Homo sapiens: one gene and its partners. The protein of the gene in region 1 purifies or fractionates together with the protein of each later gene. This does not show direct contact. Each region holds a gene or a part of one and is shown in the gene's direction. Other genes may lie near its edges.

Region 1 (4,017 bases):
CGTGTTTTGTTCACACAGCGTTTTAAAACATGAATCAGGCTGGGCGCGGTGGCTCACGTCTATTATCCCAGCACTTTGGGAGGCTGAGGTGGGAAGATCGCTTAAGTTCATGAGTTTGAGACCAGCTTGGGCAACATGGAAAAACCCCTATCTATAAAAAATTTTTAAAAAATGAGCTGGGAGTGGTGGCGTGCACCTATGGGCCCAGCTACTCAGGAGGCTGAGGTGGGAGGATCACTTGAGCCCAGGAGGTGGAGGTTACAGTGAGCTGAGATGGCGCTACTGCACTCCAGCCTGGGTGACAGAGCCAGACCTTTCTCAAAAAAACCCCAAAGACCACAAATCAAACTTTATAAGAGTCTGAATTTTTGTTTCTTTTGAAGACAGTTATCTAGATTGAGTTTTAAATGGGGCAAACACTCCCCATTGGCAACAATGCCTTACCATCCTTTTCATGCTGCTAAAGCTGTGTGTCATTTGCCATCATCACCAGGCTTAAGCCATTTCGTTACAGTTAAGGAGAGAGTAAACTGTTCCTCATACCTTGTTGAAAGGGACTTTTGTTTCAAAAAATGTCTGACAACATGCAACTAACAGCTGTATTCTCTGCCAGGGCCCCTAGGCACCAGAGTTGTGACATGGCACACTCCTTCCCCTGTGACAATTAGGTCTCTTAATAGAGATAAATGGGGACCAAAACTATAGTCATGGACAGTGTGGGAGCCATTTATTTAGAATTAATGAAATGACTGAAACTAGCTTGCACCGCTAGCTGGCAGGAATCCTTGGAGTGCAGCTGTGTGATCTAAATCCATTTTGGTCCCTGATGGCGATGGTTGCCCATTTTGGTTTAAATATCCATGGGGAGAATTCTGGGTCCTGACTGGCTGGTTCCTTTTTGTTGCCACAATCTGGGGAGATTAGACTGGCAGAATACTGGGTACATGTATATTGATATTTCACCTCCCTATCACTTCCCAAGGCAGGGCTACCTGTCAGTATTTTCTCCACTTAAGAATGGTAAGCACCATTCTGGTATCACCCATTGCTTTGTGGCTCTCGCCAGGAAGAGATTACTATGAACTTGTGAGAGACCTGGACTTGCAAAGCTTGTTTGGACTTAGAGTAGATCCCAGAGTTGTTTGCTGGCAAAACACAGCCTGTGTTCTGGATATCACAGGTGTCTAGTTAATAATGGGTGTGAGGGACTTTACCTCCCCCTAAAACTTCTTTGAGGGCAGAAATGGACTAGTTGACATCTAATCATAAGTCTACTTCTTTTAGGGCAGGTTGAGAGGACAGGTACCATTTATTCTGTCACAGAAACAGAAGGCTGCTAAATGTGGGAGAGTTCTTGCAAGGATTTCACTAACTTGGTGCTCTCTTCCCTTATTGTTGCATTTTATTGAACTTTCGGGAGAGCAGATATCTGTGACTTAGTAAATGTTGTCACCATATGTCACAGATTAAGCCCATCTTTTTTTTCTGGAGAAAGGGAATAAAGTCACCAATAACATGGCGATTGTTAGGAGGCCCTTAAGGGGTGTTTGATCAAGGGTCTTTCAGAGTAATTACCTGGGCAGTTAGGCTGTTCTACAGTCATCTCTCTGTGGTCCTCAGTTCAGACTAGATGTGAACCATCCTGACTTTGAAATGCAGAGTAGTCCCTAGACTGTTGCAACTAGTTTGTTGGGGTGGGATCAGGCAGCGACTTGGCATTTATTTATGCATTTTTTAATCTGCCAGAGCTTCCTGTAGTTAAATAGGCATGATAAATAAAGTTATTTAAAGGAGTCTTTACATAAAACTACTGAATATTCTTACATTTCTTTTTGTAGTTCTTGGTTAGTAGAGAAATTACTGGTGGCCAAATCTCACGGTCTTTACTGTTTTTGCATACTAACACATACTTCACAATATTAAATTGCATTAGATCACAGAAAAACATATTTACTTGTCTGATTAGCAAAACAAGGATAGAATGATGTGGCTTTCAAGTGGTTTGCAAAAATGCCTCTAGAAAAGTAGAGAGGTAATATTGTCTAGTAATTAAAAATTTGTTTTTATTTGGCTTTTTAAAAGTAAATGTGGAGACTTCATTTAGAGGTTTACTTCTAAGTTTCACAAATGTAACAATAACTTTTATTGTTTTCAGGCTGGATCTTACAGAGAAAGACTATGAAATACTTTTCAAATCTATTAATGGGTAAGTTGGCAGCATTGGTTTCATACGGTATATGAGTGGTCTACATATGTCTGCTTTTGTAAAAGAAATCATATAAATATTATACATGTTTCTATGTAACTGTCTTAGAGTGGTATAGTATTAGTGTTCTGAGTTCTTTTATAGGATTTATTTTCTTGGGAGATGCAAAAGTCCTTCAAAAGAGGAAGAGGCAGGTTAGGAAATGTATAATTGTTACATAGTAGACACACATAATTTTTTTAAATGTGTGACTTAATCTTTGTTCTTTTAATGCTTGTCTTAAATGTTTTGAAGCTACCTTGAATGGCGTGGCATACTGCTTGCATATGGGGTTTATAAGTCCAAAGTCTGAGGATGTTGATTTTTTTTTTCAGGTAAATTGGGAAAAAATATTCACCATTACTCTTAATTTTAGGAAAGAAGGCTAATTACAGCAATCAAAAACATTTAATTACCATGTTGGCAGAGATCAGAAAATTTGCTTATACTCTATGGGGCCTGTGAGGAAACAAGTGTGCTCATACTTTATTAGAGGGAATGTAAATCAGGTAGTCTTTTTTGGGGTAATATTGCAATACCTATTGAAATTAGAAACACGTATACCCTTTGACCTGGGAACTTGAGGAGGAATTTTATTTTATAAATATATTCCCACCTTGCATGAAGACTTAGACTCAAATCTATGCATTGTATTAGTAGTATTGTCTGACAGTCACCCCGTAATCCATCAGGTGAGAATTGGTTAAATAAAACAGACTATGTACATTCAATAGAATACTATGCAGGAATTAAAAAATGCGGCTATCTGTAGATGCTGACTTAGATCACCATTGTCCTATGAACAATGTGATAGTGTTATGTGAAAAAGGCAAGGCACGTGATGGTGTGTATAGCATACACCCCGTTTGCTTTTTGTTAAAGGTGGGGGTGAAGAGATATGCATATTTCTACCAAATCAACACAGCAGATTTTAATGGCAGTTGTTTCTGATTGGGAATAGGGTGGAAGTATTTTACTGTAAAATGTTTTTTTAAAAGAGCTTTATTATTTTTACTTCTAAAACCATGTTAATTTATTGTTTCTTTTAAAAAGCTATGTTTAGAAAATTATTTGCCTTCAGTTCAGTTTGGTTCAGTAAATATTTACCATAAAATCAGTTCAATTTAGTAAAACATTTACAATGCCCAGTATGTGCTGTGTGCAAGGTACTTTGGCATGGACAAAGATCATTAAGTCTAGGCTAGAATATAATAGTAGAACCTCAAAAATAGACCTTTTGAAACACTTCATTTTCTTCCCACCCTCTCCCCAGTTGCATTCCTGTTTGGAGAGGAATCTGAATCAAGTAGCAGTGTAGACAGGAATACATACTTTGGGGAGCTAGCCTGTCCAGATGCTCAGTATGTCTTCATGCAAACCAGCAAAAGGAGTCCATTTTCTATCTTCCTCACTCGTTTTCTGCATTGCCACTAATTGTTGCTCCTGTAGGCCCCTTTTCTCTCTCATGTAGTCACTGAAAGCTGCACTCCAAAGTGGGTTAAATTAGGGGCCTTATTTATATCTCTGAGTGTCACCAGAAAATGAGCCGTATTCTAATGTGACTTCAAAAGCACCTTTATTGAGTCACTGTTATGCAGTGGACCCCATAGTATTTTGCAGGGGAATGCAGAGATGAAAAGACAGAGCCATGCTTTAAGGAGTTTGTCATATAGGAGGGACAGTCAGGTTTTGCTGCATGAAAGGAGTTTGGGGTTAGACATACCGTATTTGGTCATAGGCAGCTTTTTAAATACTAAGTTAATGTCTGTAAG
Region 2 (4,017 bases), on another chromosome or scaffold:
GGACCTGCCGGCCCTGCCACGCCTTTTGTCGTGGAAATAGCCACATCTGCATCTCCAGGAAGGAGTTACAAATGTCCAAGGGAGAGCCAAAGAAGTACTCACTGGACCCAGAGGAGGTGAAAGAGAGGGGTCAGATGCCTGGGTCTGAGGGAGGAGGGGCTGGGGAGCTCCTGGGTCTGAGGGAGGAGGGGGCTGGAGACCTGGACCCTTGGGTTGAGGGAGGAGGGGCTGGAGGCCTGGATTCCTGGGTCTGAGAGAGTAGAGGTGGGGGTCTTGAACTCCTGGGTCTGAGGGAAGAGGAGCTGGGGCCTGGACTCCTGGATCTGAGGGAGGAGGGGGTGGGAGCCTGGCCTCCTGGGTCTGAGGGAGGAGTGGGTAGGAGCCTGGACTCCTGGGTCTGAGGGAGGAGGGGGTTGGTCCAGGCCTTTCTATGATCACACTGTCCTTCCTTGGCCAGATTGAAAACTGGGTGACAGAGGGTCCTAGTGAAGACGAGGCCGTGTGCGTGAACTGCCAGAATAACAGCTATGGGGAGAAATGCGAGAGCTGCCTGCAGGGCTACTTCCTCCTGGACGGGAAGTGCACCAAGTAAGAGGAACCGGGGGGGGGGGGGGGGGGGGGGGGGGGGGAGGCCGGGGATCCCACCCTTCTCACTGGGAGTAGCTCTGGAGCCAGGCCCCCTCTTTAGTCCTCCACCCCCAGTCAGGAGAGGATGACATCCCCAGGGAGCGCCCAGGCTGGGGTCAGGGTAGGGAAGGAGCTGGAATGTGATGCCACTCCCTACCTCCAAGGCTAGTGCTGAAGTGCAGTCCACAGAGCGGCCCCATCGAGAACAAGATGGGGCGGCTGAGGGCAGAGGCCTTGGAACAACCTCCCCTTTCCATCTCCTTCTTTCTGAGTGTTCAGTGAGTGCTGGAGTCTGTGCAACTCGGGTTCTAATCCCAATGGTAATTTAACTGCTTTGTGGCCTTGGGCAAACAGCTTGACCTCTGTGAACCTCAGTTTCCTCTTCTGGCCTGTTGCACAGAGTTGAGCTCACATATGGGGTGTCCATCCTGGACCACTGCAGGCCATGGGGGCTCCGTAACCCTCAACTTCTTCCCCAGATGCCAGTGTAATGGCCACGCGGACACATGTAACGAGCAGGATGGGACGGGCTGTCCATGTCAGAATAACACAGAGACGGGCACATGCCAGGGCAGCTCCCCCAGTGACCGTCGAGACTGCTACAAGTACCAGGTGCGGCTGCAGAAGCTAGTGGTGGGCCGAGGGCCCTACACCTTGTGGAGGTCAGGGCTGGGATGAGGTAGCCAGGCTCGGGCAGGACTGACAACATGGTTCCAAATCAGTGGTTTTGGGATCAAGTGCAGCTTGACAGACTGTTCCTGAGCCCCATTCAGTTACAGGCCCTAGGCAGTGATGCTGGGGACCAAGATATGAGCCTCTGGGGGACTCTCAGACTGGTGGGGAGACAGTCTCCATTACAGGTAGTCACAGCTAAAGGTGGCACATGCCAGAAAATCTATCCCATGGTAGCTCAACCGAAAAAAGAAAATGGGCTGGGCATGGTTGCTCATGTCTGTAATCCCAGAACTTTGGGAGGCTGAGGCGGGAGGATCACTTGAGCCCGGGGGTTCAAGACCAGCCTGGGCCATATAGTGCAACCCCATCTCTGAAAAAAAATTTAAAAATTAGCCTGGCATGGTGGTGCACATCTGTGGTCCCAGCTACTTGGGAGGTGGAAGTGGGAGGATTGCTTGAGCCCAGGAGGTCGAGGCTGCAGGACTCTGTCTCAAAACAACAACAACAACAACAACAACAACAACAACAAACACACACACACACACACACACACAACAGAAGAAAAGAAAATGTATTGACTCTTAGAACTGAGGGTCTGGGGTCTGCCTTCAGGACTGGCTATATCCGGGTGCTCACACAATGCCATCAGAAGTCTCTCTGCATCTTGACTCTGCTTTCCTCTGCATTGGCTTCATTTTCAGGCAGATTCTTCCCAGTTGGCAGACCCCCTCTGATGAACTGAGGCTAGCAGAGATCTCATATCATTTAATACCCAGATTCAAATTCCCCTCGAGTGCATTTCCCTTTTTCTTCTGCACAGAGGCTCCTGGAGTGCCTGCACTGGCCACCTGGCTGGCTGCTGTGTTCCAGACTTGCCTCCATGATGTCCCAGGCTCCTTCCTCAGAGGACAACTCCCGCCACCTCCCCGCCACCTTCTCTCTCCAGTCCCAGAGGGAAGAGAAAGTCCCTTGCTCTCAGTCTTCCTTACCCATCTACAGAAACATAATAGCTGCAAACATAATAGCTGCCACCCCAAATGGCAACAGTTTTACAAGCCTTACTGACCCTTAACATTTCTATCCTGGGCCAGAATTTCTGCTTTTTTATTTTTTTTTTAATTTTTAATTTAATTTAATTTTTTTTGGACACAGAGTATTGCTCTGTTGCCCAGGCTGGAGTGCAGTGGTGGGATCTTTGCTCGAGGCAGCCTCCACCTCCTGGGTTCAAGTGATTATCCTGCCTCAGCTTCCTGAGTAGCTGGGACTACAGGCGTGTGCCACCATGCCTGGCTAATTTTCTGTATTTTAGTAGAGATGGGGTTTCACCATGTTGCCCAGGCTAGTCTCAAACTTCTGAGCTCAGGCAATCCACCTGCCTTGGCCCCCCAAAGTGCTGGGATTACAGGCGTGAGCCACCACACCCAGCCCAGAGTTTCTGCTTTCTTGATAAGGGAAAGGCCTATTGGCTTTTACCAGGGAGTCTCAGAGATTAAATCAGACCTCCTCCTCTACCAGGTCTGTTGGCTGCTTAGAAGTAGCAGTTTTTCTTGGTTCCTTTTTTTTTTTGAGACGGAGTCTCACTCTGTCGCCAAGCTGGAGTGCAGTGGCGTGATCTTGGCTCACTGCAACCTCCGCCTCCCAGGTTCAAGCGATTCTCCTGCCTCAGCCCCCCGAGTAGCTGGGACTACAGGCACGTACCACCACCCCCCGCTAATTTTTGTATTTTTAGTAGAGACAGGGTTTCACCATGTTGGCCAGGATGGTCTTGATCTCTTAACCTTGTGATCTGCCCACCTTGGCCTTCCAGAGTGCTGGGATCACAGGCGTGAGCCACCACCCCCGGCCGGTTCTTTTTTTTAATGTATTTATTTTTAAGACAGGGTCTGGCTCTTTCACCCAGGCTAGAGTGCAGTGGTGCAATCTCAGCTCATTGCAACCTCTGCCTCCCTGGTTTCCATCATCCTCCCACCTCAGCCTCCTGAGTAGCTGAGACTACAAGCATGTGCTATCATACCTGGCTAATTTTTTTTTTAGAGATGGGGTTTTAACCATGTTGCCCAGGCTAGTCTTGAACTCCTGAGCTCAAGCAATCCACTCACCTTGGCTTCTCAAAGTGTTGGGATTCTAGGCGTGAGCCACCGTGCCTGGTTGGGCTTTTGGGTTTTTTTTTTTTTTTTTTTTTTTTTGATACAGGGCTTACTCTGTCACCCAGGCTAGAGTATAATGGCGCAATCATAGTTCACTGCAGCCTTGAACTCCTGAGCTCAAGTGATCCTCCTGCCTCAGCCTCCTGAGTAACTGTAACTATAGGCACACACCACCATGCCTGGCTAATTTTAAAAAAATTTTAAAGACGGGGGTCTTACTATGTTGCCCAGACTGGTCTCGAACTCCTGGGCTCAAGCGGCACTCCTGCCTCAGCCTCCTGAAGCACTGGGATTACAGGCATGAGTCACTGCGTCTGTTTTCTCTTGGTTCTAATAGTGATTGCAGTAATAACTAGAATGCCAGGAGCGCCTGCCACAGAGCTGGATGCTGTGCTGTGTAGACAGTGGTGACAGCATAGATATGAAAGGCTTTGCAAGACTGTGCTGGGGCCTCAGTGGGGTACAGACTTAAGAGGAAGACAGATTCAGAGACATTAAATGTCCTAGCTGGGCACAGTGGCTCATGCCAGCACTTTGAGAGGCTGAGGCGGGCAGATCACTTAAGGTC
Region 3 (4,017 bases), on another chromosome or scaffold:
CCAGTTGCATTTTGGTCCTGGACACCATCTGAGCTGCTTCCCTGCATTGCGCTTCCCCATTGCTTCATGGAGTTCCCTTATTCTGCCCATTCTGACCCCAGCTGGAGTGAGGACAAATGACATCTCAGGCAGTGCATGCATGGGACTTCCCCCCCCATCCAGTTTGACCCTGACCCCACTGCATGAGGCTCCCTGCTTTTTCAGTCTTACAGGCAGGGTTTGGGAGGCCGCCTCGTGACTGTCATGTGGATGAACCACGAGACAGGAAAAGACTTGTTTCTAGATATTCTGTCCTGATTGACAGTAAATTTTAAATAGACGTCTCTCTTTTTTTTTTGTTTTGAGATGGAGTCCCGCTCTGTTGTCTGGGCTGGAGTGCAGTGGCGCGGTCTTGGCTCACTGCAACCTCCACCTCCTGGGTGCAAGCAATTCTCCTGCTTCAGCCTCCCAAGTAGCTGGGACTACAGGCATGCACCACCATGCCCAGCTAATATTTATATTTTTAGTAGAGACGGGGTTTCGCCATGTTCGCCAGGCTGGTCTCAAACTCTGACCTCAGGTGATCCACCCGCCTCGGCCTCCTGAAGCGCTGGGATTACAGGCGTGAGCCACCATGCCTGGCAAATAGCCGTTTCTTAGAAACCTCAATTCCTAGTCATGATTTACAGTGCCTGATTTCTGTACCAGAATGAGACACATTGCTGAAAATTTGTCCCTTTTCCTTTTCAGTTTAAGAACAAGGTTTAGTGTAACCTGTTTCTGGCTCTTTGTTGTCATCTGTCAAGGGCCATTTTCTGGGTTTTGGTTTTCGTTGTAACATCTGCACTTCTCAGCAATCCTCAGGAGGAGGCAGGAAGGATGGGACTTAACACCATAGCATCCTTGAAATAGGCCGTTCCATGCAGGGAGTATTTTAAGCCTCCCTTTTATCCTCCCTGCCTCGCTTGTGTGGGTTCATTCCCCAGGGCGTGCCAGGTAGAGAAAACAGCCATGTGGAACCCAGCCAGCTGAGAAGGCAGTGGCTGGAGAGGCTGGTGGCGTAGGAAGTGTCACCATGCACCCTGGTGATGAGAACAGGGTAGGCCACCTTACCAGGTAGTGGCCAGAGGTGTGGGGACCCTCAGGGGACCTCTTGGCTTCAGGTGAGACACCCCCAACTCTCCCTTTCTCCAGGCCATGTGCATGATCATAAACGGTTTAATTTCTTCATTGCGCTTCCATGTAGATTGCAAGGCTAACAGGACTTGGTATGAACTAACCCGCATGTCCATCCACTGAGCTGCCAGCACCGGTAACACCGTGTTGAGTGAGAAGTGAGTTGGGCGATGCTGGGTTGCACGCCTGACTTCGCCTTTTCTCCCCTGACCCAAAGGTGGCGACCTGCACATGACCCAGTTTTTCCGAGGCAATCTGGCTGGCTTAACTCTCCGTTCCGGGAAACTCGCGGATAAGAAGGTGATCGACTGTCTGTATACCTGCAAGGAGGGGCTGGACCTGCAGGTCCTCGAAGACAGTGGCAGAGGCGTGCAGGTAACACCGAGCGCTCGACTGCACACCACTCATGGGCCCCTTAGACTACAGCCCCGGAGGCTGGTGGGATGAGGGAGTGAGTAATCTGTGATTGATACGTTTACTGTTGGGTAAAAGAGTTGTGTTCACTGGACTTAAACGAGCTTTTCTTTTTCAAGTCAGCAATTCAAATCGAACCCAGGCCAGTCCCCTTTGTGGAGGCATCTGTGGTTTCAGCTCCTGCGGTTACTGGCTTATTCTTCTCCTCTCTGTGGCTGGTGTGATTTCAGATCCAAGCACACCCCAGCCAGTTGGTATTGACCTTGGAGGGAGAAGACCTCGGGGAATTGGATAAGGCCATGCAGCACATCTCGTACCTGAACTCCCGGCAGTTCCCCACGCCCGGAATTCGCAGACTCAAAATCACCAGCACAATCAAGTACGTCCTGATTTTTAACAGCCGGCCTGTTTTGCCCAATGACACTTGTATATTTAGGTTTTTAAGACAGCCTAACCCCTTCTGTAAGGAAAGGTGAGCCATCGTGTGTAACCAGAAAGTGTGGGGCAGAGAGCTGAGTGATATTTACGCATCTTGTTTGCAAGTGTGTTCCTGGAGTGGCCCCGGCAGGTGTTAGTGGGGGCCTCTGTATCCCACCTCCATGTGCCTTTGCACAGGTGGGCTCCAAGATCGGCTCCCAAAGCCCTGACCCTTCCCCATTTCTTGCTGGCAGGTGTTTTAACGAGGCCACCTGCATTTCGGTCCCCCCGGTAGATGGCTACGTGATGGTTTTACAGCCCGAGGAGCCCAAGATCAGCCTGAGTGGCGTCCACCATTTTGCCCGAGCAGCTTCTGAATTTGAAAGCTCAGAAGGGGTGTTCCTTTTCCCTGAGCTTCGCATCATCAGCACCATCACGAGAGAAGTGGAGCCTGAAGGGGACGGGGCTGAGGACCCCACAGGTAATGTGCTCTGTGGGGCGCGGGCTCCCTCGCCTCGGCCGGAAACCCCATTGTCCCCATGTACTTGGCGGGGCTCTTTGTCTCTGTGGGATTTGGGGAGGTTTTAATCTTTCGTTGGTGTTCTCTCGGGTGTGCTTCTGGAATCTGACCCGTGAGCTGGAGCTCATGGTGATCTCTGGAATCCCATCTGGAGGGGTCTTACATCTTTTCCTGGTTGCTGCCAGGCTTTGAGATGTGGCTTGAGGTTGAGGGGTTGAGGGCACTTACGGGAGACACTGCTTGCACCTGCCAGGCTGGCCAGCCCATGGAGGCACAATGTCCCCACAATTCTTGCTCAGGACACATGAAACTCCCCCCCTTTTTTTTTTTTTTTGAGATGGAGTCTCACTCTGTCGCCCAGGCTGGAGTGCAATGGTGTCATCTTGGCTAACTGCAGCATCCACCTCCTGAGTTCAAGCGATTCTCCTGCCTCAGCCTCCCGAATAGCTGGGATTACAGGGACCTGCCACAACGCCCGGTTAATTTTTGTATTTTTAGTAGAGACGGGCTTTCACCCTGTTGGCCAGGCTGGTCTCAAACTCCTGACCTCAGGTGATCCACCCGTCTTGGCCTCCCAAAGTGCTGGGATTACAGGCGTGAGCCACTGCGCCCAGCCGTTTCTTGAAAGCAACTCTCGCTTGCTTCTGTCGTTGGTCCTTACGAGAGCCATGTAGGTTTGGGGTGAGCCGGCAGGGCATCCAGTGTGCCCCGCCACGCTGGGCCCCACTGCCCCTACTTAATATTTCTGGTTGGGCCTCTTTTGCAGTTCAAGAATCACTGGTGTCCGAGGAGATCGTGCACGACCTGGATACCTGTGAGGTCACGGTGGAGGGAGAGGAGCTGAACCACGAGCAGGAGAGCCTGGAGGTGGACATGGCCCGCCTGCAGCAGAAGGGCATTGAAGTGAGCAGCTCTGAACTGGGCATGACCTTCACAGGTAAGGGGAGCGCTGCAGCCACGCAGGTGGGCCAGGCTGCAAGAGGGGACTTTGAGAGCTCTTGGCTGGCTGCTGCCTGCCATCTGAGAATGTTGAGTTATCTTAGAGGGAGATGGGGAAGGAGCACGTTCGCTGGGATCATTGTTGGCTGCACGCATACTCCTGTCTCCTGGACAGGTACCGGATGTGTAGCCACTACTCTCTAAAGGGGGAGGGTTGAGGCGTGGGATGACACGTCCCCCACAGAGGGAAGAATGCCCCTGTGCACATTGCATTTATTCCCATGGCTAGAAAGCCAACTTGTGTGACCCCTTGGCCTAGCTAACCTGGGTGTCTAATTGAGCCTGCCTGTGCTGACGGCTGCAGCCCTGCCCATGCTCCTGCCCTAAGCCACCCGGCAATCTTCCCCCTTTCAACCCCTGCAGGCGTGGACACCATGGCCAGCTACGAGGAGGTTTTGCACCTGCTGCGCTATCGGAACTGGCATGCCAGGTCCTTGCTTGACCGGAAGTTTAAGCTCATCTGCTCAGAGCTGAATGGCCGCTACATCAGCAACGAATTTAAGGTGGAGGTG
Region 4 (4,017 bases), on another chromosome or scaffold:
TTTTTCATTATCTAGTAAAGCTGAATATTCTCATACTTGATATAAGATTCTGTTCCTGTGTCTATTCAGAGAACTTTGTACTTGTGCACATGTCTACCAGGAGAGATTTATACAGGTCTGCCAGCAGAATTTGTTCACAGCTAACACTGGAAATCAACCCAAATGCCATCAACAGAAGAATGGATAAATGTGATACAGTCACACAATGGGATATTATACAGCAGTATAAACAAATGACCGAGGCAACAATGTGGATTAATTGTAAAATGTAATGTTGAATAAAAGCAGCAAGTCAGTAAGCTGTGCTCTCACATATTTTTTTCTCCCAAAGCTCATAAGCCAAACTGTAGAGTATATTGTATATATACATGTATGTAACAAACCTAGTTTTTAAAAAGGTACGTGAGTCAGGAGCACACATTTCAAGAGATGGGAGGATGGGATAGGAAAGCAGCATACAAGTAGATACAACTGCATGAATTGCTCTAGTTCTTAAACTGGGTAATTTGACTTCGTGTTTTCTATGTGTCTCAACTATTAAATGAGCAAAAATAATAAAAAGAAAATTGATTGCTCATGGAGATTATGCATGTTCTCGAACTACTCCTTTTTTGAGAAATATTTCGATGCACAAAAGAGTTAACATAGTAGCAGGTCTATGACTGCTGTCCTTAGAAAGGACTGCTTGCAAGAGTGACCCTTGGTTGGTATCTGGGAACTTGGATTTCGAGGGGATTCCTACCACTCCCAAAACTAATAGGAGAGGTTCCCTGTGCCTAAACTGTGTGTTCAAACAGTGTGATTTCTATTCAACACTTGCTTTCCTTCTGGGTATCTGGAATTTGGGAACTTGCCAGGCATAAGTTGTCTGTAACCCTGGCCACTGAGTCTTTAATGAGCTTTCCTGGTTGGCAGCATTTTACACGTGTTCGCAACTAATCGCTGGGAGAATTTAATGTGTCATATATGACTTCCTTGGGAGAGGACCCTTGGAAGCTTGTGACTGGTTTCCTCCAGACTTCTCCCAATGTGCCTCTTCCCTCTGCCGGTTTTGTTTTGTAAAGGACACAAAATAAAAAATGATACTCACTATTGTGAGTATCATTATGTGCTAAGTCCACTGAGCCCTTTCAGCCAATTTCTGAGCCTGAGTAAGGATGGTCTTGGAGATCCCCAGAACAACCTGTAATTTAGAGTTTCAGTCTTTGTTATAAAAGCATCAAGCAGGTTGGCAGCTAAACAGTAGTATTTCAATGTATCATTCCAAGTATACTTGTTCTAATACAACTTGGGCAGGGTTGAGGAGTGGACAAAGGGCAGAGGTTTGGTTGCTTGTTGAAAAAGGCAGTCCATTCAGGAATGTATTCTGGAGAAGTTTACAAAGCAAATAATGGAAAGAGGTGTCTTCTGAATTGCATACTAGTTATCATAGTTTTCACTGTTACTAACCAGCATGTGATGGCAATTATGCACATGCCATCATAGAGATTCCCTTTTAAGCTGAGGTATGGTTGGGTGCAAAGGACTGAAGTAAGGATTATGTGGTCGTAGACTGCTTCATTAGTTTTCCCGTGGAGGAAGTGACTGCTTCTCAGGTGGAATTGGATTACCAAATGTCTGTTGTAAAAGTCCTTATCATGTACATGATGTTTCTTCCAGAGATGTGTTACATCAGAATTTTGAGAGTTATAAGCCTGAAGTACAGGAGCTGATTTGTGTGGCTGATCGTTTGGGATCCCTGATGCAATATGAAACACCTGGTTTCCTGCCAAACAAGAGAATACACAGAGGTATTCTGGAAACTACCTGAAAATGAAAATATTCCTGGCATAAGAGGAAGGGTGGTTAAGCCATGTTGTGCATTTTAATAAATTAGTATTTATTGTGCTTATTCAAATTCTCCATGTGATCAGAATAGAAATGTGTAGAATCATTCAAACTGAATTCTGAAAGAAGACTGCTTCCATCCTTGGCTTTTTTGCTATTGCTGTAGTATAAACTAGAATATAGGTCTTAAGTCCTTACTCAAAATCAGACAGCTGATCCAGGGAGCTATTTCCTTACTATAGGAGTGAGGAAGAATGCAAACCTCCACTTGTTTCAGTAGGAGGCAGAGTTGGGAGCAGACAACTTGAGTTGTCTTCAGTTAACTCTGATGGGTTTTAATTTTAGTAGGACCATCATGACTGAAACGTGCCTTGGGTCTTGTTATATCACCAATACTTCTGACCCTTTATGTGTTAACTCTTGAGTTATCACTGAGACTCTGTAAAGTAGGTGGAACTCAGTCCCTCTAAAGTGTACTAACTCTTCTCGATATTCCTTTCTCGTAGCTATGGGTTTGGCCGCATTGGAGGTCATGCAAGCCGTGCAGCGTACATGGACCAACTCGAAAGTTCGAATGAATGGGAAGACACGGTTGATGCAGTGGAGAGACATGTTTGACATTGCAGTTAAATGGAGAAGGTAACTAACATCTCAGTGAAAATAAACTATAAGTCTTATCATTGTCAAATAACGTCAGTCTGTTTTAGCTAACAGGCTATGAACCCTGTTTTGCTTGCTAACACCAGGCCTTCCAAGTTAGGTTTTCCTCTCTAAAGTTTGTTAGAAATTGCTGGCATCTTTATTATTTGACATACACTTAACTAATATTTTCAAAATAGGAATTGATTGGCTGGGCGCAGTGGCTCACGCCTGTAATCCCAGCACTTTGGGAGGCCGAGGCGGGCGGATCACCAAGTCAGGAGATCGAGACCATTCTGGCTAACACGGTGAAACCCCGTCTCTGCTAAAAATACAAAAAATTAGCTGGGCGTGGTGGTGCGCGCCTGTAGTCGCAGCTACTCCGGAGGCTGAGGCAGGAGAATGGCGTGAACCCAGGAGGCGGAGCTTGCAGTGAGCCGAGATCGCGCCACTGCACTCCAGCCTGGGCGACACAGCGAGACTCCATCTCAAAAAACAAAAAAAACGAATTGATTGTTGTCACATTTTCAATCACCTATTTACATGAAGCATTTTAGAAACAGTCTCTTTGAAAGAACAGATCCATTACCTGTGGTACCTCTGAATGAACTTCGCTGGACCAGTCCCTTTACAGATAATGGTGTGCCTGGCAACTAGCTAGTTTAGAGTAACCTTTGATATTCATTTGCGTGACAAAAACTGTCCTCTGCTCCTAAACCTTTACCTTTACCTGGCTTTTCGCCTGGTCCAGCTGGAACATCTGTTTGGAATTTGTAGGTATGGACATCACGTTTTTAGATATGATGGACTAGCTGTTGCTTTATCCCCACCTTTGCAAACACTTCTACATGTTTTATTTGGAATGCTTCTGAACACTTCTGGTTTTATAAAGGTCTCTGTTTTATAGGATTGCTGACCCAGACCAGCCCGTGCTGTGGTTAGATCAAATGCCAGCACGAAGTCTTAGCAGAGGTTTTAACAACCACATTAATTTAATCAGGTACGAACCTTTTGTGCATCTTTCTTCTTTTCCTAGGAGTTTATTCTCAAGACACAGGCCATGGAGACCAGGAGTGACCCATTGCTCCTTTCCTGGTGACTTTTTGACCAGGGAACATACTGATTGACTCTGCACCTGTGGAGTCCTGCCTGCATTCCTTTCCTCTAGCCCAGCTGCAGAAAGAAACATAGCGCATGCCATACTCCTTCCCCAGGCCCTTCTGTCTGGTGTAGAGCACAACCGAAGGGTAGATTGCAGATGTTTTCCTAGGGCGTCAGTCTTTAAGGAGTCTTAAAATATAGAAAATTATTAGATGGAGAACATTACAGTAACCATAATATTCTTTTGATAGTACATGGCTCAAATAAATTATTTGACAAGTCTCTCGTGGTGGAGTCTCTCACGGTGGGCGGCTCCCCATTCCACCCCAACACACAAAGGGCTTAGATAAATAACACTATCTGGTAACTAAGCTGCCATCTGGGGAGGGCAAGTCAGGTTGGCTGGAAAACTTCTGTTTTGTCCAGAGGCTCTGCTAGTTGGGGACATGG
Region 5 (4,684 bases), on another chromosome or scaffold:
CTGGTTTAAAGGACATACTTACTGGAAAATATGATTTTAATAGAAAATCCTATCACCAGAAATGTATACCTTTAGGATTATTGGAAGCAAGGAGCAGTGTAGACAAGGCAGAACCTTCACGCAAACTTCTGGTGCAGCAAATGGACAGGTGGTAGCCTGCAGATGCACTGGGGCAATCAGATGTGGAGAGCCTGCCCTGGAGAGCTGGAAGGCTGCAAGGCTTTACCGTTCCTTCCCCTGGCTCATCTGTGTGCTTTTCCTGTTGCTGGGATTGTGGGGTCATCAGTGAGCCCTCTAGTATCACCTCATCCCTCAAGTCCCCTCACCCTTCTGAATTCATCTGATCACTGGTAGCTCCATTCTCCCACTGGTATCTTCTATTTTCCATCACCTGCTCTGTACAGTCCGCCCTCGAGTCAGCTGCTTCCTCCCTTCTAGCCATTCCATGATATGCTCCTTTAATCTCTGAAGGGCCGTGATTAGAAATTTAGGTTTTAGACTCAGAACCACCCATACTGAGTCACATCTTCCCTGAGCCTCTGTTACTTCAGCTGTACAAAGGGAATGTCCACACTAGCTCCCTGCCAGGGTGGCTGTAACAACTAAAGGAGATAATGAATATAAAACACTTAGTGGGCGCTGTCCTCAGTACACTTGGGCTCTAATCATATTCCTCTGCTGCTTCAGAGGCTTGCTGGCTCTCTGCAGGCAGCAAGCACATAGCTGGACCAAGTCTGGCTACTGAGCCAGGTTCCCAGTGGGAAATGGTGGTTGCTGACATCCAAAGCACTTCGGGTCTGCTGTCCGCCCAAGTGACCAGCCTGGTGCCATGGAGCACACATCTAGCTCCAGGCAAGGAGACTACGTGCTGTTTCCCTGCTGTTTTGTGCCCCCAGCTCCTCACCCTTCCAAATGTGTGTTGGCCACACCAGCAGCTGATGGACCAATGTGTCAGACCCTCCCCAGAGTGCCCAGTTATCCCACTGCCTCATGAGGAGAAGGCAGAGGAGGGGAGACTCCATTTCCAGACATTTCAGCATTACCCAGTGGACAAGCACTGTAGTCAGTCCCCAGGTATTGCTAAACACAAGGGTCACCATGGAGACTGGTCAGTGTCTGACAGTTCTGCTTCTCCTTCCTGGAGTGGCCACGACCTGCAGGACGGAGGGAGTTAAGGGTGGCAAGGGGGAGCACACCGAGGGCTCCGCTTCCAGCTGGAAAGACCAGCCTCCGGCACGTCTGGACTCGGAGAGAGCGCTGCCCGCCTCCCTGCCTCCAGACCCGTTGCTGGAGGAAGGGCTAGGACAGGCCTGAGTTTGTGGCGAATCCCCCTTGTCCACTTCCCTGAGGACACACGCTGCAGGAGAGCAGCCTCGAGTCTTTTCTGCCTTCGAGGTCTCAGGAGCTTTTGTCCCCAAGCCCAGAGGACAGGGGTGGCCCTGACTCAGGCGCCCTCTTCCGGGTAGGGGTCCGCGTGCGCCCTCCCAAGCCCGCGCCCCGCAGGGGCGCCCGCCCCTCTCCCCGCCCCCGGCGTGGGCCCGCCCCCGCGCCTGTGTCACTGCGAGGCCGGGGGTGGAGAGCGGCCGGGCGGGACATCCGGCCCGGGTCCCTCGCCGCGCCCGCCGCCCGCCGCCCGCTTCGGCGCCGCAGCCCGGGAGCCGGCCACCCCTACACGCGCCAGGGCTGTCCCCTGCCCTCCCCTCCCCAACTACCCCCGGTCCCAGACCCTCCTCCCGCCCCCAGCCCGAGCCCGCCTTCCAGGCCGCCCTCGGATCGGCCGGGCCCGCGCAGGCCCCCACCCCTTGAGCACCATGTTCCCCCGCCCGCTGACCCCGCTGGCGGCCCCAAATGGCGCCGAGCCCCTGGGCCGGGCGCTGAGGCGGGCCCCTCTGGGCAGGGCCCGGGCGGGGCTGGGTGGGCCGCCCCTGCTGCTGCCGTCCATGCTGATGTTTGCGGTGATCGTGGCCTCCAGCGGGCTGCTGCTCATGATCGAGCGGGGCATCCTGGCCGAGATGAAGCCCCTGCCCCTGCACCCGCCCGGCCGCGAGGGCACAGCCTGGCGCGGGAAAGCCCCCAAGCCTGGGGGCCTGTCCCTCAGGGCTGGGGACGCGGACTTGCAAGTGCGGCAGGACGTCCGGAACAGGACCCTGCGGGCGGTGTGCGGACAGCCAGGCATGCCCCGGGACCCCTGGGACTTGCCGGTGGGGCAGCGGCGCACCCTGCTGCGCCACATCCTCGTAAGTGACCGTTACCGCTTCCTCTACTGCTACGTCCCCAAGGTGGCCTGCTCTAACTGGAAGCGGGTGATGAAGGTGCTGGCAGGCGTCCTGGACAGCGTGGACGTCCGCCTCAAGATGGACCACCGCAGTGACCTGGTGTTCCTGGCCGACCTGCGGCCTGAGGAGATTCGCTACCGCCTGCAGCACTACTTTAAGTTCCTGTTTGTGCGGGAGCCCTTGGAACGCCTCCTCTCTGCCTACCGCAACAAGTTTGGCGAGATCCGAGAGTACCAGCAACGCTATGGGGCTGAGATAGTGAGGCGGTACAGGGCTGGAGCGGGGCCCAGCCCTGCAGGCGACGATGTCACATTCCCCGAGTTCCTGAGATACCTGGTGGATGAGGACCCTGAGCGCATGAATGAGCATTGGATGCCCGTGTACCACCTGTGCCAGCCTTGTGCCGTGCACTATGACTTTGTGGGCTCCTATGAGAGGCTGGAGGCTGATGCAAATCAGGTGCTGGAGTGGGTACGGGCACCACCTCACGTCCGATTTCCAGCTCGCCAGGCCTGGTACCGGCCAGCCAGCCCCGAAAGCCTGCATTACCACTTGTGCAGTGCCCCCCGGGCCCTGCTGCAGGATGTGCTGCCTAAGTATATCCTGGACTTCTCCCTCTTTGCCTACCCACTGCCTAATGTCACCAAGGAGGCGTGTCAGCAGTGACCATGGGTGTGGGGCCAGCAGCTGGTGGGGACTGGTTTCAACGCCAGCTTTCTGTGCTTCTGCCTGTCATTCGGAGAAACTCTGGCTCTGGGGCTTGGGGCTTCTCAGGATCCTGGATGGCAGAGACTGCCCTCAGAAGTTCCTTGTCCAGGGTGGGCACCCACAGTGACTCAGAGGACAGGGCTAGGCAGGAGACCTGCTGCTCCTCATTGGGGGGATCTCTTGGGGGGCAGACACCAGTTTGCCAATGAAGCAACACATCTGATCTAAAGACTGGCTCCAGACCCCGGGCTGCCAGGATTATGCAGTCCACTTGGTCTACCTTAATTTAACCTGTGGCCAAACTCAGAGATGGTACCAGCCAGGGGCAAGCATGACCAGAGCCAGGGACCCTGTGGCTCTGATCCCCCATTTATCCACCCCATGTGCCTCAGGACTAGAGTGAGCAATCATACCTTATAAATGACTTTTGTGCCTTTCTGCTCCAGTCTCAAAATTTCCTACACCTGCCAGTTCTTTACATTTTTCCAAGGAAAGGAAAACGGAAGCAGGGTTCTTGCCTGGTAGCTCCAGGACCCAGCTCTGCAGGCACCCAAAGACCCTCTGTGCCCAGCCTCTTCCTTGAGTTCTCGGAACCTCCTCCCTAATTCTCCCTTCCTTCCCCACAAGGCCTTTGAGGTTGTGACTGTGGCTGGTATATCTGGCTGCCATTTTTCTGATGCATTTATTTAAAATTTGTACTTTTTGATAGAACCCTTGTAAGGGCTTTGTTTTCCTAATAGCTGACTTTTTAATAAAGCAGTTTTATATATAAGGCGAGCATTTCTGTGATTTCCCTTGGAGCTCCTGTGGGCCCAGCAGATCTCCTCGATGTCTGTCTTCCCATGTCAGGGGAGGCAGCCTGTAGATAGAGAAAGTAAGGTATAACTTGGTTGGGCTGGTCCAATGGGCCGTTGCCATTCCATGGAGACTTTGGGGGCTTTCTAATAGGCTATACCAGATCACAGACTCAGATCCTGGGATGTCACCAAAGGGCAAGCCCAGTTAGGAATGGCCTCACGTCCAGAGCATACCTACATGTATTATTCCCTAAAAAAGTAGGTGGGTAGGAGATACGGGATCCTCCTCTTATTCAATAAGAGTTGAATGAGAAGTTCCCCCAGAGCATTTTCTTTCTTTCTTTTTTTTTTTTTTTTTTTTGAGATGAAGTCTCGATCTGTCACCCAGGCTGCAGTGCAGTAGCACCATCTTGGCTCACTGCAACCTCTACCTCCTGGGTTCTAGCGATTGCCTCAGCCTCCCAAGTAGCTGGGATGATTACAGGCACGCACCACCACACCTGGCTAATTTTTGTATTTTTAGTAGAGATGGGGTTTCACCATGTTGGCCAGGCTGGTTTTGAACTCCTAACCTCAGGTGATCTGCCCACCTCGGCCCCTCCAAAGTGCTAGGATTACAGGCGTGAGCTACCACGCCTGGCCCCGGACCATTTTCAAATGAAAAAGAAAATTTTTGTGTGAGCAAGGAGATTTTTTTCTGGCACTACAAGGAAGGCAGGCAAGGAGGTTGAGTGAGGGTCAGGCTCTTGTTGACTTAGGTCCAGAGAAAGTTGTGGAAGGAATACAGTTGGAGCAGCAGAGGACAGACTTCAGTATGGCCCATTGCCCCCACTGCTCTCCAGGGATCCCAGGCCCATCAGGAGTTGCTGGGCCCAAGGGAGAGTTGCAAGGCCAGAGCTGGCC
Region 6 (4,017 bases), on another chromosome or scaffold:
TTCCAAAGTGCTGGGATTACAGGCATGAGCCACCACGCCCGGCCTGCTGTGCTCTTTCTTTTCAAGCATTTCTGCTTGATCAGGGATTTAAGAAAATGAAAGCTGTTGTACTGATGTAAAATTAGAAATGAAATCTCTCCAGGGTCCAAGATCATTCATGATTTTGCTAATATACATTTATACTTGTCTTATCAAATATTTTTAAATGTTTATTGACAAATATGCTTATTTATTTATTTATTTGAGACAGGGTCTCCCTCTGTCGCCCAGGCTGGAGTGCAGTGCAGGCTGGAGAGCAGTGGCATGATCTCAGCTCACTGCAACCTCCACCTCCGTGGCTCAAGTGATCCTCGTGCCTCAGTCTCCTGAGTAGCTGAGACCACAGGCATGTGCCACCATGCCCAGCTAATTTTTGTATTTTTTTTGTGGAGATGGGTTTTTGTCAGGTTGCCCAGGCTGGTCTTGGACTCCTGGGCTCAATTGATCTGCCCACCTTGGCCTCCGAAACTGCTGGGATTACACGTGTGAGCTGCCTGGCCCCAAATATACTTTTTTTTTTTTTTTTTTTTTTTTGAGACAGAGTCTCACCCTGTTGCCCAGGCTGGAGTGCAATGGTGTGATCTCTGCTCATTTCAACTTCTGCCTCCTGAGTTCAAGTAATTCTCCTGTCTCAGCCTCCCAAGTAGCTGAGACTACAGGCGCCCACCACCAGGCCCAGCTAATTTTTGTATTTTTAGTGGAGACAGGGTTTGGTCATGTTAGCCAGGCTGGTCTTGAACTCCTGACCTCAGGTGATCCACCCACCTCAGCCTCCCAAATTGCTGGGATTACAGGCGTGAGCCACCACGCCAGGCCTATACTTTCTTAATATACTTTGTGTGTATAGTGTTTAATTCTCACCATTCTTTTAAAATATTATGGAGTCAGGTGAGGTGACTCACGCCTGTACTTCCAGCACTTTGGGAGGTCTAGGTGGGAGGATCATTTGCACTCAGGAGTTCAAGACCAGCCTGGGCAACATAACCAGACCTTGTCTCTACTAAAAATTAAAAAAATGCTGGGCGCAGTGGCTCATGCCTGTAATCCCAGCACTTTGGGAGGCCGAGGTGGGCAGATCACCTGAGGTCGAAAGTTCAAGACCAGCCTGACCAACATGGAGAAACCCCGTCTGTACTAAAAATACAAAATTAGCCAGGCATGGTGGTGCATGCCTGTAATCCCAGCTACTCGGAAGGCTGAGGCAAGAGAATTGCTTGAACCTGGGAGGCGGAGGTTGCAGTGAGCCAAGATCATGCCACTGCACTCCAGCCTGGGCAACAAGCGTGAAACTGTCTCAAAAAAAAAAAAAAAAAAAAAAAGGTTGGGTGTCGTGGCATGTACCTATGGTCCCAGCTACTCGGGAGGCTGTGTTGGGAGGATTGCACCTTTGATGGGTGACAGAGTGAGACCCTGTCTCCAAAAAAAAAAAAAAAAAAAAAAGAGTTAAACTGTAAAACCTTTAGGTCTTGTTTATTATTTTTTTAAATTTTTTCTTTTAAATAGAGATGGGGTCTTGCTATGTTGCCCAGGCTGGTCTCAAACTGCTGGGTTCAAGTGATCCTCCCACCTCAGCCTCCCAAGGTACTGGGATTACAAGTCTGAGCCACCCTGCCCAGCCAGGTTTTGTTTATTAATTCTATGGATTTTTTTTTTTGAGATCAAGTTTTGCTCTTGTTGCCCAGTCTGGAGGGCAATGGCATGATCTCGGCTCACCACAACCTCCGCCTCCCAGGTTCAAGTGATTCTCCTGCCTCAGCTTCCCAAGCAGCTGTGATTACAGGCGTGTGCCACCATGCCCGGATAATTCTGTATTTTTAGTAGAGACGGGGTTTCTCCAGTCTGGTCTCAAACTCCCAACCTCAGGTGATCCACCGGCCTCGGCCTCCCAAAGTGCTGGGATTACAGGCGTGAGCCACTGTGCCCAGCCTGTGGATCTTTTTTTTTTTTTTTAACAATTCAAAAGTATGTTTCTGGATTTTGACAAACTAAGTGAAATTGCATACTGTTTTTACTCTACTGAACAATTCCATGAAGATGAGAACAGTTTAACCTTATAGGCCTCAGAAGCTAGGATTAAAAAGAACATAAAAATAATTACAAGAAGAAAAAGATTACTTCTACCTGAAGGACCTAGACATTTCTGGGAAGAAACAGCAGTGAAAGTGACCTTCATGTACATGGAGTATTTAGATCAGGGGTCTCCAATCTTTTGGCTTCCCTGAGCCACACTGGGAGAAGAATTGTCTTGGGCCATGCATAAAATATACGAACACTAACGATGGCTGATAAGCTAAAAAAAAAAAATGTGAAAAAATCTCATAATGTTTTAAGAAAGTTTATGAATTTGTGTCGGGCTGTATTCCAAGCCGTCCTTGGCTGCATGTGGTCCCTGGGCTGGAGGTTGGACAAGCTTGATAGATGTTTGGGAGAAAATGGGAAAGACAATGTAAACTGAAGGGACCTCATGACCAAAGCAAAGAGATGACCAATGATGACCACTTCTACTAGGCACAAGAAAGGGGTTCTATGTGGCTGGTTTGTAGGGTGCAGGAGAAGCCTGGAAGGGTGGGTTAGGGGCTGAATGTTCAAATACCTTGAAAGCTGGGCTTTGTTCTGTAGGTGAGAGCGAACCATCAGAAGTTCTTTTGGAGGGCGTGTTATTCTAAAAAGCCTGTTTTTATTATGTACATATTTATTTTTTGAGACGGAGTTTCACTCTTGTCACCCATGCTGGAGTGCAATGGGGTGATCTTGGCTCACTGCAACCTCTGCCTCCTGGGTTCAAGCAATTCTCCTGCCTCAGCCTCCCAAGTTGATGGGATCACAGGCACCCACAACCACGCCCCGCTAATTTTTTTTTTTTTTTTTTTTGTATTTTTAGTAGAGATGGGGTTTCACCATGTTGGCCAGGCTGCTCTCGAACTCCTGACCTCAGGTAATCCACTCGCCTCAGCCTCCCAAAGTGCTGGGATTACATGTGTTAGCCACCATGCCCGGAAAAAGCCTGTTATTTTACTTGATTCTTTTAAAAGATAGGCAAAGGTCAGATCTTTGGACTAGTGAGGAAAATACAGGTTAAATGATTTTTCCAAGTTAACCAGCAAGTCCATGATAGTGATGAAGGTAATGAAAATAGTAACAGCTAACATTTATCAAGTATTTTCTATATGCCAGGCCCTGTTCTAAGCACTTTATATGCATAATCTCACTTATTCCTCTCAACAACCATAGGTTGTAGGTTTTAATATTATCCCTGTATTGCATATGGATAAATATAGGACACAAACCAGTTAAATAATTTGCCCAAGGACACACAGTGTGTAAGAAGCAGAGCTAGAGGCCAGGCGTGGTGGCTCATGCCTGTAATCCCAGCACTTTGGGAGACCAAAGCAGGTGGATCACCTGAGGTCGGGAGTTCAAGACCAGCCTGGGCAACATGGTGAAACCCCATCTCTACCAAAAATACAAAAATTAGCTGGGCACGGTTGTGGACGCCTGTAATCCCAGCTACTCAGGAGGCTGAGGCAGGAGACTCACTTGAACCTGGGAGGCAGAGGTTGCAGTGAGCCAAGATCACACCACTATACTCTAGCCTAGGTGACGAGCAAAACTCTATCTCAAAAAAAAAAAAAAAAAAAAAAAAAAGAAGCAGGGCTAGAAATTGAACCCAGGCCATATAGCTTCAGCCTATGCCTTTATCAGCTGACTTCCTAGGTATTTGGGATTTTTATTTTATTTATTTATTTAGTTTTGAGACGGAGTCTCACTCTGTTGCCCAGGCTGGAGTGTAGTGGCATGATTTCAGCTTACGGCAACCTCTACCTCCCAGGTTCAAGTGATTCTTCTGCCTCAGCCTCCCAAGTAGCTAGGACTACAGGTGCCTGCCCCCACACCTGGCTAATTTTTGTATTTTTAGTAGAGACAGGGTTTTGCCATGTTGGCCAGGCTGGTCTTGAACTCCTGACCTCAGGTAATCCA
Region 7 (4,017 bases), on another chromosome or scaffold:
GCAACAGGGTATTTTGTTAATGTTATGTTTTCATTAAAAAATGAAGTAGAAAACAATCCAGTTTCTATAGCACGTGGGCAGGAGACGTAACTTTAGAAAAAGCCGACTTGGCCTGGCATGGTGGCTCATGCCTGTAATCCCAGCACTTTGGGAGGCTGAGGCGGGCGAATCACCTGAGGTCGGGAGTTCGAGACCAGCCTGACCAACATGGAGAAACCCCTTCTCTACTAAAAACACAAAATTAGCCAGGTGTGGTGGCGCATGCCCTTAATCCCAGCTACTCGGGAGGCTGAGGCAGGAAGAATCGCTTGAACCTGGAGGCGAAGGTTGCAGCGAGCAGAGATCGTGCCATTGCACTCCAGCCCGGGCAACAAGAGCAAAACTCTGTCTCAAAAAAAGAGAAAAAGCCGACTTACAGAAATTACTGAAGAGTGGTGTAATTTTTGAACTGGGTCTGATTTCCAATACATTTTAATCCAGTTTTTGAATAGATAAAACATTATGGAAATTTTTTTTTCTGTTCAGTATAGTAATTATTATACCATTCTGTATTTAAATGTGACTTTGTTAGGCTTCTATGTGTAAGAGCAATGATATTAAATAGCTCCACTTTGAAATATGTGTTCTAAAATTTGCTCATCATATGCTGCATAAATGTAAGGATTGGAAAATAGTGTATTCTCCTTGTATGCAATCATGATTTACTTACAGTCTTGAAAATTGAATGCTTGTAAAGTTGAGTTAGCAAGTTAAAGCTTATGTCATTTGTAATATACATGTCTAGGCACTACCATTGCCAATTATAGGAATTTCTACTTCTTGGTAATAATCTCGTATTCCATTTCAGGGAAGGAAAAAAAAGAGGACTTCCATCTTCCATTCATTGATATGAGTTCCTGAAAGGGACATTTTAAACTTTTTTTTTTCTGCTTAGGACAGGATAAGAGTCTAGAGCTGTAAACCACAAATATAAAAATTATATATATATAAACATATATATATATGTAAACTTACAAAGAATTAGTGCTTTAGCAAAGTGGTGGTAAGGTCTTTTTTTAAATAATGAAATGTTTTTAAGTGGTTATTATTCATATGTTGTCAGGACTTAATTCGTTCACAAGTTTGAGTGTACTTGATTTTGTTGGTGTTCATAGTCAGGATCTGGAACTGAGGTCTTTTCTGTTTGCTAGCTCTATTATTACCAGTATTTCATAATCTGTGATTATAGTTTTAAAAATGACAATTGCAGTATAACAGGAGGCAAATAAAAATATAGTCAGCAATTTCTTTAACACTTTTTTCAATTCTTGCCATCAGTGATTGGAACTTTGGTAAAAGAAAAGTTAATAGGCCGGGCGTGGTAACTCACACCTGTAATCCCAGCACTTTGGGAGGCTGAGGCGGGTGGATCACATGAGGTCAGGAGTTCGAGACCAGCCTGGCCAACGTGGTAAAACCCTGTCTCTACTGAAAATGCAAAAATTAGCCAGGCATGGTGGCAGACGCCTGTAATCCCAGCTACTCGGGAGGCTGAGGCAGGAGAATCGCTTGAACCTGGGAGGTGAAGGTTGCAGTGAGCTGAGATCGTGCCACTGCACTCTAGCCTAGGTGTGACAGAGTGAGACCCTGTCTCAAAAAAAAAAGAAAAAGTTAATAAAAAATTGTTAAGCTGTGTTTTCCTTTGCTAATTATTTGGCCTTGTCTGGTCATACAATTAACTTGTACTTTTTCCTGTAGTCCTCAAGTCCCTGAACTTGAGAGTGCTTAATTGAAAGGCTGCTTCCTCAGTCGCAACCTTACAGGTTTTGATTTAGTAAAATTCTGGTGTAGTGATCAGACATCTCCATTTTAAACAGTGGTTACGGAGATTTTGTGAAACAGAATTCGCCAAAACACACAACTCTCTTTTTGAGCATTAGTTTTCTCATTTTGGAAGTGAATACTATTTATTTGATTTTTGACAGTTTTTTTAGAGTAGAGCACATCATAAAAAGTATCTTTTGAAAATATGACAAACATTAATAAATATGTACTTAAACTAGGCATTAGTGGTTTATTCAATGTAAGTGCAAAGGCAGAGGCTTCATAAAGCGTTGTTATTTCATGTCACTACACACCTGTGTACCTCTCTCTTAGTAGAACATATAGGGGAAGCAATAAATGGCAATAATAATGGTTTTTTTAAAGGGCTGTCCAGCAAAACCCCCGCTTCAAGACAGATACGTTAAATAATTGTGTTAAGAGGTCATTGTTTTTCTGCATCAGATTTCCTTCTCTGATGATGGCATCTATCATTCATCAGTTTTCTTAGGAAAAATTATAAGATGAATTGTACATAAATTACTAGTAATCATTAAAGTTTGGCTCAGCTCTGTGTGGTGAGTTCATGAAAGCTTGTCTGCTAGCTGTTGTAGTTTCTGATTCTGTTTATGTCCCTTTCTACCTAAATTTTTCTTTTGTTTTTATTGGTATATTTTTTATGAGGAAGAATTAACTTTTTGAAAGATAATAAATAGAATATACTTACCTTTTTTTTTTTTTTTTTCCATTTCTGCTCTTTTAAAATTAGGAATCAAGTACTGGAAATGTTTGATCATGCTTATGGTAACTATATGGTAAGTAGGAAGCTTATCTTTACCTACCATTTATGTGAGTTGATTATTATGTGAGCACAGTCAACTGGGAATTTTGAAACCTACAATACAATTACATTTTTTAAAAGGAAGTTTTTAAAAAACAGGGCAAAAATAGTCTTTCTGGTAGTGGTTTTTAGGGAACCAGTTTATTGAACAGATAAGAATAAATTGAAATTAGATTATGAAACTTCATTATTTAAACAGCTTCCTTGGGTGCCATCAACAATTATCATTGAGTGCTTTATATAGCTAGATATTGTGGATATATACATGAAGATGTTATCTCTGGTCTTAAGGGAGATTATTCTCTTAATTTAAAAAAATGTTTACAATATTTATACACTGAAGAAAACCATTGCTTAAAAGAGAAATTGTTACTTAGCCTCTGTCCTAATTGTATCCTCATGGACTCTGCACTGAATATATTTTGCTTTTTAGTTTGCTGATTCATATTATTTAAAAATGTTTTAGGGCTCACTTAAGATTAAATAGCAGTTTCAGTTTTACAAGATGAAAAGTTCTGGAGATCTGTTGTGCAACAACGTAGATGAAATAGCAAATTCTGGAATTCAAAAAAAATTTTGCACATAAATTGTAATTTGAAAAGAGTTTAAGCATATTATCCTGAAACTTATCCCTTATAACCTTGTTTTTACATTTTAAAATATGTCAGCAGATTTTCTTCTATGATTACAACGTATAAAATGTAGTTGGGAAAGTTTGGCAGAGGACTAGCTTTAGTTCTGCTTAAAATATTTTTCAACTGATTCTGTGAATCCATTTTTTATCATATATTAACCAAATATCTTCATACACTAACATCATTGTTATCTATGAACATCTAAATATATGTAATTTATGCATTTTTAGTTTTAAAACATGTTTTATATTTGACAGTCCTCGTTCTCTTTTATATTGTAAATTTGGAGAGAGCACATTTTGAGTTCTTAATGTTTTTAGGATATGATTTTTTTTGGATACATTTCAACATTAAAAACACAGTTTCAAATTTATTTCTCAAGACCTCAGTCATTCCCTTAATGTTTTTTTTGTTTTTTGTTTTTTGTTTTTTTTTTTGAGACGGAGTTGTGCTCTGTCGCCCAGGCTGTGGAGTATAGCGGCACTATCTCAGCTCACTGCAGCCACCACCTCCCAGGTTCAAGTGATTCTCCTGCCTCAGCCTCCTGAGTAGCTGGGATTACAGGTGTGTGCCACCATGCCTGGCTAATTTTTGTATTTTTGGTAGAGATGGGGTTTCACCATGTTGGCCAGGCTGGTCTCGAACTTCTGACTTCAAGTGATCTGCCCACCTCTGCCTCCCAAAGTGTTGGGATTACAGGTGTGAGCCATTACACCCGTTCTGTTTTTTAATTAATTTTTT

The links.
Region 2: the proteins of GGH (region 1) and MEGF8 purify together in Homo sapiens (affinity purification with mass spectrometry; one large-scale study listed by BioGRID and IntAct). This does not show direct contact.
Region 3: the proteins of GGH (region 1) and CLSTN1 purify together in Homo sapiens (affinity purification with mass spectrometry; one large-scale study listed by BioGRID and IntAct). This does not show direct contact.
Region 4: the proteins of GGH (region 1) and TTC13 purify together in Homo sapiens (affinity purification with mass spectrometry; one large-scale study listed by BioGRID and IntAct). This does not show direct contact.
Region 5: the proteins of GGH (region 1) and CHST14 purify together in Homo sapiens (affinity purification with mass spectrometry; one large-scale study listed by BioGRID and IntAct). This does not show direct contact.
Region 6: the proteins of GGH (region 1) and TAPBP purify together in Homo sapiens (affinity purification with mass spectrometry; one large-scale study listed by BioGRID and IntAct). This does not show direct contact.
Region 7: the proteins of GGH (region 1) and EDEM3 purify together in Homo sapiens (affinity purification with mass spectrometry; one large-scale study listed by BioGRID and IntAct). This does not show direct contact.

What each region holds. Positions count from the first base shown.
Region 1 is NC_000008.11:63,028,356-63,032,372, reverse strand, and holds part of GGH (gamma-glutamyl hydrolase isoform 1 precursor), read left to right. Parts: intron 1-2,155; coding exon 2,156-2,206; intron 2,207-4,017. UniProt on the Homo sapiens protein: Hydrolyzes the polyglutamate sidechains of pteroylpolyglutamates. Progressively removes gamma-glutamyl residues from pteroylpoly-gamma-glutamate to yield pteroyl-alpha-glutamate (folic acid) and free glutamate.
Region 2 is NC_000019.10:42,370,244-42,374,260, forward strand, and holds part of MEGF8 (multiple epidermal growth factor-like domains protein 8 isoform 1 precursor), read left to right. Parts: coding exon 1-116; intron 117-457; coding exon 458-588; intron 589-1,106; coding exon 1,107-1,239; intron 1,240-4,017. UniProt on the Homo sapiens protein: Acts as a negative regulator of hedgehog signaling.
Region 3 is NC_000001.11:9,733,398-9,737,414, reverse strand, and holds part of CLSTN1 (calsyntenin-1 isoform 1 precursor), read left to right. Parts: intron 1-1,372; coding exon 1,373-1,530; intron 1,531-1,799; coding exon 1,800-1,948; intron 1,949-2,240; coding exon 2,241-2,467; intron 2,468-3,272; coding exon 3,273-3,443; intron 3,444-3,868; coding exon 3,869-4,014; intron 4,015-4,017. UniProt on the Homo sapiens protein: Postsynaptic adhesion molecule that binds to presynaptic neurexins to mediate both excitatory and inhibitory synapse formation.
Region 4 is NC_000001.11:230,923,290-230,927,306, reverse strand, and holds part of TTC13 (tetratricopeptide repeat protein 13 isoform a precursor), read left to right. Parts: intron 1-1,659; coding exon 1,660-1,790; intron 1,791-2,333; coding exon 2,334-2,466; intron 2,467-3,373; coding exon 3,374-3,466; intron 3,467-4,017.
Region 5 is NC_000015.10:40,469,403-40,474,086, forward strand, and holds CHST14 (carbohydrate sulfotransferase 14), read left to right. Parts: upstream 1-1,581; 5' UTR 1,582-1,811; coding exon 1,812-2,942; 3' UTR 2,943-3,756; downstream 3,757-4,684. UniProt on the Homo sapiens protein: Catalyzes the transfer of sulfate to position 4 of the N-acetylgalactosamine (GalNAc) residue of dermatan sulfate. Plays a pivotal role in the formation of 4-0-sulfated IdoA blocks in dermatan sulfate.
Region 6 is NC_000006.12:33,307,062-33,311,078, reverse strand, and holds part of TAPBP (tapasin isoform 1 precursor), read left to right. Parts: intron 1-4,017. UniProt on the Homo sapiens protein: Involved in the association of MHC class I with transporter associated with antigen processing (TAP) and in the assembly of MHC class I with peptide (peptide loading).
Region 7 is NC_000001.11:184,748,145-184,752,161, reverse strand, and holds part of EDEM3 (ER degradation-enhancing alpha-mannosidase-like protein 3 isoform 2 precursor), read left to right. Parts: intron 1-2,569; coding exon 2,570-2,615; intron 2,616-4,017. UniProt on the Homo sapiens protein: Involved in endoplasmic reticulum-associated degradation (ERAD). Accelerates the glycoprotein ERAD by proteasomes, by catalyzing mannose trimming from Man8GlcNAc2 to Man7GlcNAc2 in the N-glycans.